2 separate regions of the Homo sapiens genome follow, and region 2 is linked to region 1. The links come from fine-mapping of genetic effects on gene expression. A gene starts in region 1. The other region holds a variant in brackets. All regions are shown on one strand. Distances are between the middles of the regions.

Region 1 (2,896 bases):
ATCTTCCCAGACCCTAGCTTTTAACTCCTCTTCCCCAGGTTCAGGGAGATTACTATGGAGATCTGGCTGCTCGCCTGGGCTATTTCCCCAGTAGCATTGTCCGAGAGGACCAGACCCTGAAACCTGGCAAAGTCGATGTGAAGACAGACGTGAGTGTCATGGGGGCTGGCAAGAAATGTGGGGGGAGGACCCTTAGGTTGTGGGGATGGGCAAAAATGCTCCCACACTTGGCTCCCTGGCAGCCTAGGTATGTGCGCTGGGAGAAATTCTTTCCCTGCCTCAATTTTCTCACCAGTAAAATGGGTCCAGTTGGGAGGTGCAAAGATTAGAGGGCTCTAGGCTAATTTGCATAGCACTTGTGTGGCCAGACCTGGGCCCTGCAGCTGCAGCCTTTGCTAAAACCACTAGATCCTTTGTGGTGTGACCGCTGGTTTTCTTTCCACTGTTTCCCCTTTCTCTTTTTCAGAAATGGGATTTCTACTGCCAGTGAGCTCAGCCTACCGCTGGCCCTGCCGTTTCCCCTCCTTGGCTTTATGCAAATACAATCAGCCCAGTGCAAACGGCTCGTCTCCGTGGTCTTTGGGGTGGGGTAGGGTAGGGTGGGGACTGTACAAATGAAATGTTTCTCTAGGTTGCTGAATCTAACCAATTAACCCGCTGCCTGTGGTAACGTCAGTGGTTGCTAGGCAGAGTTTCACTGATGAAAGCCCTGTGCAGTAGGAGCGCTCCTAAGCTTAGGTTTCGGACACAAGCAAAGGAAAACCTAAGCAGCCCAACTAGGGGATTGTAGTGTCCTCTCTAGACCAGTGGGAGGGAGCCAATCGGACTACGCGGAGGATATAAATCGCACAGTAAAGGTTTTCTTGGAAGATTATCTGGAAAGGGAGGTGGGAAGTAACCTGCGCCTATCTGCCCAGTTTTCCTCCTTTTCGCCTTTGAGAACAGTAATCGCTCCCGCCAGCTCAAGATCAGCTCCTCTTCCAGCCTCTTTCTGTCAATCCTGCCCGTGCCCCCTTCTTTGCATTTGTATCCCCTCCCCCAAGTCCGCTCCGATCCAATCCGGAGACTCGACTCTGCCCCCCGTACTCCAGACTAAATCCGTTCCTCGGCTCAGCTAAGCAGCTCTGCACGTCCCTTCCCACTTGCTCAGCCAATCGCTGGGCTCGGCCCCGCCCCTTTGGGCTTGGTCCTTCTCACGCCACCAATCCGCGCCTCTTGTCCCGCCCCCTGCCCGCGAGTCCGCCAATCCCGCCCTTCGGAAAGCGTCGCCTGGTATCCAGCTGCCGGAGCGGGTCGCGCCGGAGGGGGGCGGAGGCGGAAGTGGCGGTGCCGGGCCCGGGGAGTAGGAAGGAGCCGGGGCTGTAGCCGGAGTGGAGCGGCTGCCAGCCGAGGAGCAGGCGCGGCCGCGGCGCCATATTGCGGCCCTCAGCGGCCGCGACCGAGTCATGGCTGAGACCTACGGTGAGGGTGGTGGACGAAGCTGGGGTCCTGGGTCTGGGCCCAGGGAGGATGCGGCCTGTGGGAATGGGCGGGGCTTTGTAGATCAGGGGGCGGGGTCTGGTGTGATGGAGGCAGGACCTAAGTGGATGCTGGGAGGGGTTTAGTGGGTCTGAGGCTGAGCTTAATCGATTTAGGTGGAGCCTGAGGGTCTGGTGCGTGGGTTAAATAGATCTGGGGCGGGATTTGAGGGAGCTGGTCCTGAGGGGTTCAGGGAGGCCCTGAGGGAAGAGGTGGGCCTTAATGGATCTGGGCGGAGCCTGAGTGAAGGGGCGGGGCTGACTGCATGAATGGCAGGAGTCGGGCTTATGGGCTAGAGGGAACACTGAATGGAAGCTCGGGACCCTGGGGCTGATCTGGCTGGAGAGAGCTCTGGAATGGGTTTGGGGATGGGCTGTCCTTGAGTTAGGGGCAGGACTTAGTGGCAAAGGGTGGGACTTATGCATGAGAATGGAGCCGGGTTCTGGGCAGAGGGAGGGAAGGAGAGGTCGGGAAGTGGAAAATCAGTAGGGATGCACCATAGGAGGTGGTGATTGGAGGCAGGGGAAGTGCAGGTTTAGGAGTCAGAGGGAGCCGCATTCACTCAACAAATATAGAAGAGAAGGGAGAAGAGTGCAAAGACCCTGAGGTGAGAACCAGCTTGTCATTTTCAGGGAATAGACTGAAGGTCAGGAGCTATAGTGGAGTGAATGAGTCAGAGGGTGGTAGGAGGTGAAGAGGAACAAGGGCTATATCGTAGTCCTTGTTTAAATAGCTTTCAAGAGACTTTAGCGACAAAATAGCTAAGATCTGGGACTCTGGAGCCCTTGGCCTAGGTTTGAATCTCACTTCTGCCCAGCTGTGTCACTTTGGGCAAGTCAGTTAACCTTTCTGGCCTGTTACCTCATCCGGAAAATGGGAATAATTTTTAGTCTACCTCCCTCATAGAGTTTTCCTGAGGATGATGTGAGCTGTTGATGTGAGTAAAGACCTTTAGAACTGTTCCTGGCCCACAACAACACACAATTGACCCATGTAACAAACCTGCACATGTGGGCTGGGCGCGGTGGCTCATGCCTGTAATCCCAGCACTTTGGGAGGCTGAGGCAGGCGGATCACCTGAGGTCGGGAGTTTGAGACCAGCCTGACCAACATGGAGAAACCCCGTCTCTACTAAAAATACAGAATTAGCTGAGTGTGGTGGCGCATGCCTGTAATCCCAGCTACTCGGGAGGCTGAGGCAGGAGAATTGCTTGAACCTGGGAGGTGGAGGTTGCGGTGAGCCGAGATCGCGCCATTGCACTCCAGCCTGGGCAACGAAAAGTGAAACTCTGTCTCAAAAAAACAAAAACAACGACAAAAAAACCCCTGCACATGTACTCCCTGAATCTAAAATAAAAGTTGAAAAAAAATATATAGA
Region 2 (2,853 bases), 22 kb after region 1:
ATTCCCACAATCGTCCCGAGGGGGCAGGCCGGAGCGGGTCTTGAAAATACACATTTGCACATCCCTTCTAGTCCGCGTTCCCTTTTCTCAAGGGCAACCCGCACTTTTTTGCCTCCGTTATAAAAGATACTTATGTAAATTACTGACGTGCGAATTTACATACATTTCTCAACTAACTGCGTAGCCATTTCTCCGTCTCTCACCTCCGTTCCTGGACGGCGAGAAGGAGGAGGAGCTGACCATGTAAATGAAGTCACGCGCACCGCGCTGCCGAACTCGGTGCCCCGCGCTGGGCGGGGGGCGGGTAGGCCTGTCCATGTAAATCACATCATTTGCGTGCCCCGCCCCGCCGACGCCACTTGATTCCAACATGCAAGAAACGCCCCCTCCCAGACCCGGCCCCTCACACTGCGTTCCCCCTCCCGCGCAAAGGGGGCGGGGCGGAGGATGCAAATGAACCTCGTGTAGGCCACGGACCGCTGTTTCCTTTCTCCTTGGTAGGGGGGTTGTCCCGAACTTCCTCGCCCCGCTCCGCCCCGCCCCGCGCGGCTCGGGCCTGCGCAGGCGCCGTCCCCTCCGCGGGGCGCGGTCACGTGCCCACCGGGCGAGGCGGGGCGGGGCGTCGCGCGCGGTGGGGGCGGGGTATGGCGCGCTGTGCGGCGCAGGGCGGCTGGCACAAACGGCGGCGCCGGGGCCGGAGGAAAAAGCTCGGTGAGGAGGTCGCGGGGCGAGAAGGGAGCGGGAGGAGACTAAGCCGGAGCCGGGGCGCCGGCGCGAACCGGGCGGGGTGTGGGGGCGCGCGCCGGGGCCTGCCGGGGCGACCCCGGGAAGGGGGATGTGGGTGCGGCGCGGGGGAGGGGACGCGCGCCGGTTACGTTGGGTGCCGGCCGTTGTGGGGGTTGGGGTGGGGGCGGGGAGCGCGCGCCGGGCGGAGGCCGAGTGGAGGGGGAGGGGAGGGGGTCCGAGCGGCCCTTAGGCCCTGCCCCTGTCGCCTACTGCGCTCAGAAGGGGCCTCAGGGCCTGCCCCGGGTTGGGGGCGTTGGGGTGCCCTGGATGGGGGCACCTTTATCTCTCGTCCTGTCTCCGGGTGCGTGCACCCTCCTCCGTCCTTTCCTCTGTCGCCGCGGACCCTCTCCCCGAGGGCCCCTCCCGTCGGTCAGTCTCGGGACCTCCCTTCCGTCTGGGCGTGTGTCCGCCCCCGGCCGGCTTCCTCCCGTCGGGCTCGGGTCGACCCCACCGTCCCGCTCCGCCCCGGGTCCTCCCTCCCAGCTTCCCTCCGGTCTATTTTTCTGTCTCTGGGCCCCTCGTTCTCTTTGTTTTTGGACTCCCCAGTTTC[CTCTG/C]TCTTTTGACCCCCCCGCCCCCACCCTGACTCTCCCTGGAACCCCCACGTTTCTCGTTGTCTTTCTGGAACGCCGAGGCAGGTCCCTCCTATTTTCCAAACCCCCTCCTTTCCCACTCCTCCACACCACCCTTTTCTACTCCAGCCCTCCTTCTTCTGTCTTTGGTTACCGCGTCCCACAACCTGCACCACAGTCCTCTGTCTTAGGGTCATCTACCCAGCCCCTGGCCTCCAGCCTCTCCCTATCACTGCCTCTTATCTGTCAGCGGACTCCCGCACCTCCAGATTCTCAGGGTCCTCTCCCCGACTTGGCCTCAGGTTTTGGGGGGCCTCTATAGTCAAGTCTGTCCTGGTCGTCTTCCCCACTCCTGCCCATACCATCCCGGCTTTCCCCTGCCTGCCTGTCTCTAGTTTCTCTCACATCCCTTTTTTTTTTTCCTTTCTCTAGCCACCCTGAAGGGTCCCTTCCCAAGCCCTTAGGGACCGCAGAGGACTTGGGGACCAGCAAGCAACCCCCAGGGCACGAGAAGAGCTCTTGCTGTCTGCCCTGCCTCACCCTGCCCCACGCCAGGCCCGGTGGCCCCCAGCTGCATCAAGTGGAGGCGGAGGAGGAGGCGGAGGAGGGTGGCACCATGGGCCCGGGCGGTGCCCTCCATGCCCGGGGGATGAAGACACTGCTGCCATGGACAGCCCGTGCCAGCCGCAGCCCCTAAGTCAGGCTCTCCCTCAGTTACCAGGGTCTTCGTCAGAGCCCTTGGAGCCTGAGCCTGGCCGGGCCAGGATGGGAGTGGAGAGTTACCTGCCCTGTCCCCTGCTCCCCTCCTACCACTGTCCAGGAGTGCCTAGTGAGGCCTCGGCAGGGAGTGGGACCCCCAGAGCCACAGCCACCTCTACCACTGCCAGCCCTCTTCGGGACGGTTTTGGCGGGCAGGATGGTGGTGAGCTGCGGCCGCTGCAGAGTGAAGGCGCTGCAGCGCTGGTCACCAAGGGGTGCCAGCGATTGGCAGCCCAGGGCGCACGGCCTGAGGCCCCCAAACGGAAATGGGCCGAGGATGGTGGGGATGCCCCTTCACCCAGCAAACGGCCCTGGGCCAGGCAAGAGAACCAGGAGGCAGAGCGGGAGGGTGGCATGAGCTGCAGCTGCAGCAGTGGCAGTGGTGAGGCCAGTGCTGGGCTGATGGAGGAGGCGCTGCCCTCTGCGCCCGAGCGCCTGGCCCTGGACTATATCGTGCCCTGCATGCGGTACTACGGCATCTGCGTCAAGGACAGCTTCCTGGGGGCAGCACTGGGCGGTCGCGTGCTGGCCGAGGTGGAGGCCCTCAAACGGGGTGGGCGCCTGCGAGACGGGCAGCTAGTGAGCCAGAGGGCGATCCCGCCGCGCAGCATCCGTGGGGACCAGATTGCCTGGGTGGAAGGCCATGAACCAGGCTGTCGAAGCATTGGTGCCCTCATGGCCCATGTGGACGCCGTCATCCGCCACTGCGCAGGGCGGCTGGGCAGCTATGTCATCAACG

Direction of the effects. Alleles are on the strand shown, and positions count from the first base shown. SD is a standard deviation of normalised expression in the study named.
With allele C in place of CTCTG in region 2, the expression in monocytes after LPS of the gene that starts at base 1,289 in region 1 is higher (moderate effect, 0.58 SD a copy in Fairfax 2014).

The links. PIP is the estimated chance that this variant, and not a neighbour inherited with it, causes the effect.
Region 2: its variant is fine-mapped to the expression of RAB4B-EGLN2 in monocytes after LPS (Fairfax 2014, PIP 0.95). The same link has a PIP of 0.9 or more in monocytes, monocytes after interferon gamma and neutrophils.

Annotation. Positions count from the first base shown.
Region 1 is chr19:40,776,931-40,779,826 of GRCh38, forward strand. RAB4B-EGLN2 (RAB4B-EGLN2 readthrough (NMD candidate)) reads left to right here and starts at 1,289. Exons shown (of 12, transcript NR_037791.1): 1 at 1,289-1,461. It overlaps MIA (MIA SH3 domain containing), which reads left to right. Exons shown (of 4, transcript NM_006533.4): 3 at 39-149; 4 at 467-560. The coding sequence ends at 490. It overlaps RAB4B (RAB4B, member RAS oncogene family), which reads left to right and starts at 1,317. Exons shown (of 8, transcript NM_016154.5): 1 at 1,317-1,461. The coding sequence starts at 1,446. MIA-RAB4B (MIA-RAB4B readthrough (NMD candidate)) reads left to right here. Exons shown (of 10, transcript NR_037775.1): 3 at 39-149. RefSeq lists silencers at 451-580, 1,131-1,370 and enhancers at 1,431-1,500, 2,388-2,896.
Region 2 is chr19:40,798,552-40,801,404 of GRCh38, forward strand. EGLN2 (egl-9 family hypoxia inducible factor 2) reads left to right here and starts at 640. Exons shown (of 6, transcript NM_080732.4): 1 at 640-711; 2 at 1,788-2,853. The coding sequence starts at 2,022. It overlaps RAB4B-EGLN2 (RAB4B-EGLN2 readthrough (NMD candidate)), which reads left to right. Exons shown (of 12, transcript NR_037791.1): 8 at 1,788-2,853. RefSeq lists silencers at 418-777, 928-977 and an enhancer at 2,401-2,853. The variant CTCTG/C (reference allele first, on the strand shown) is at 1,337.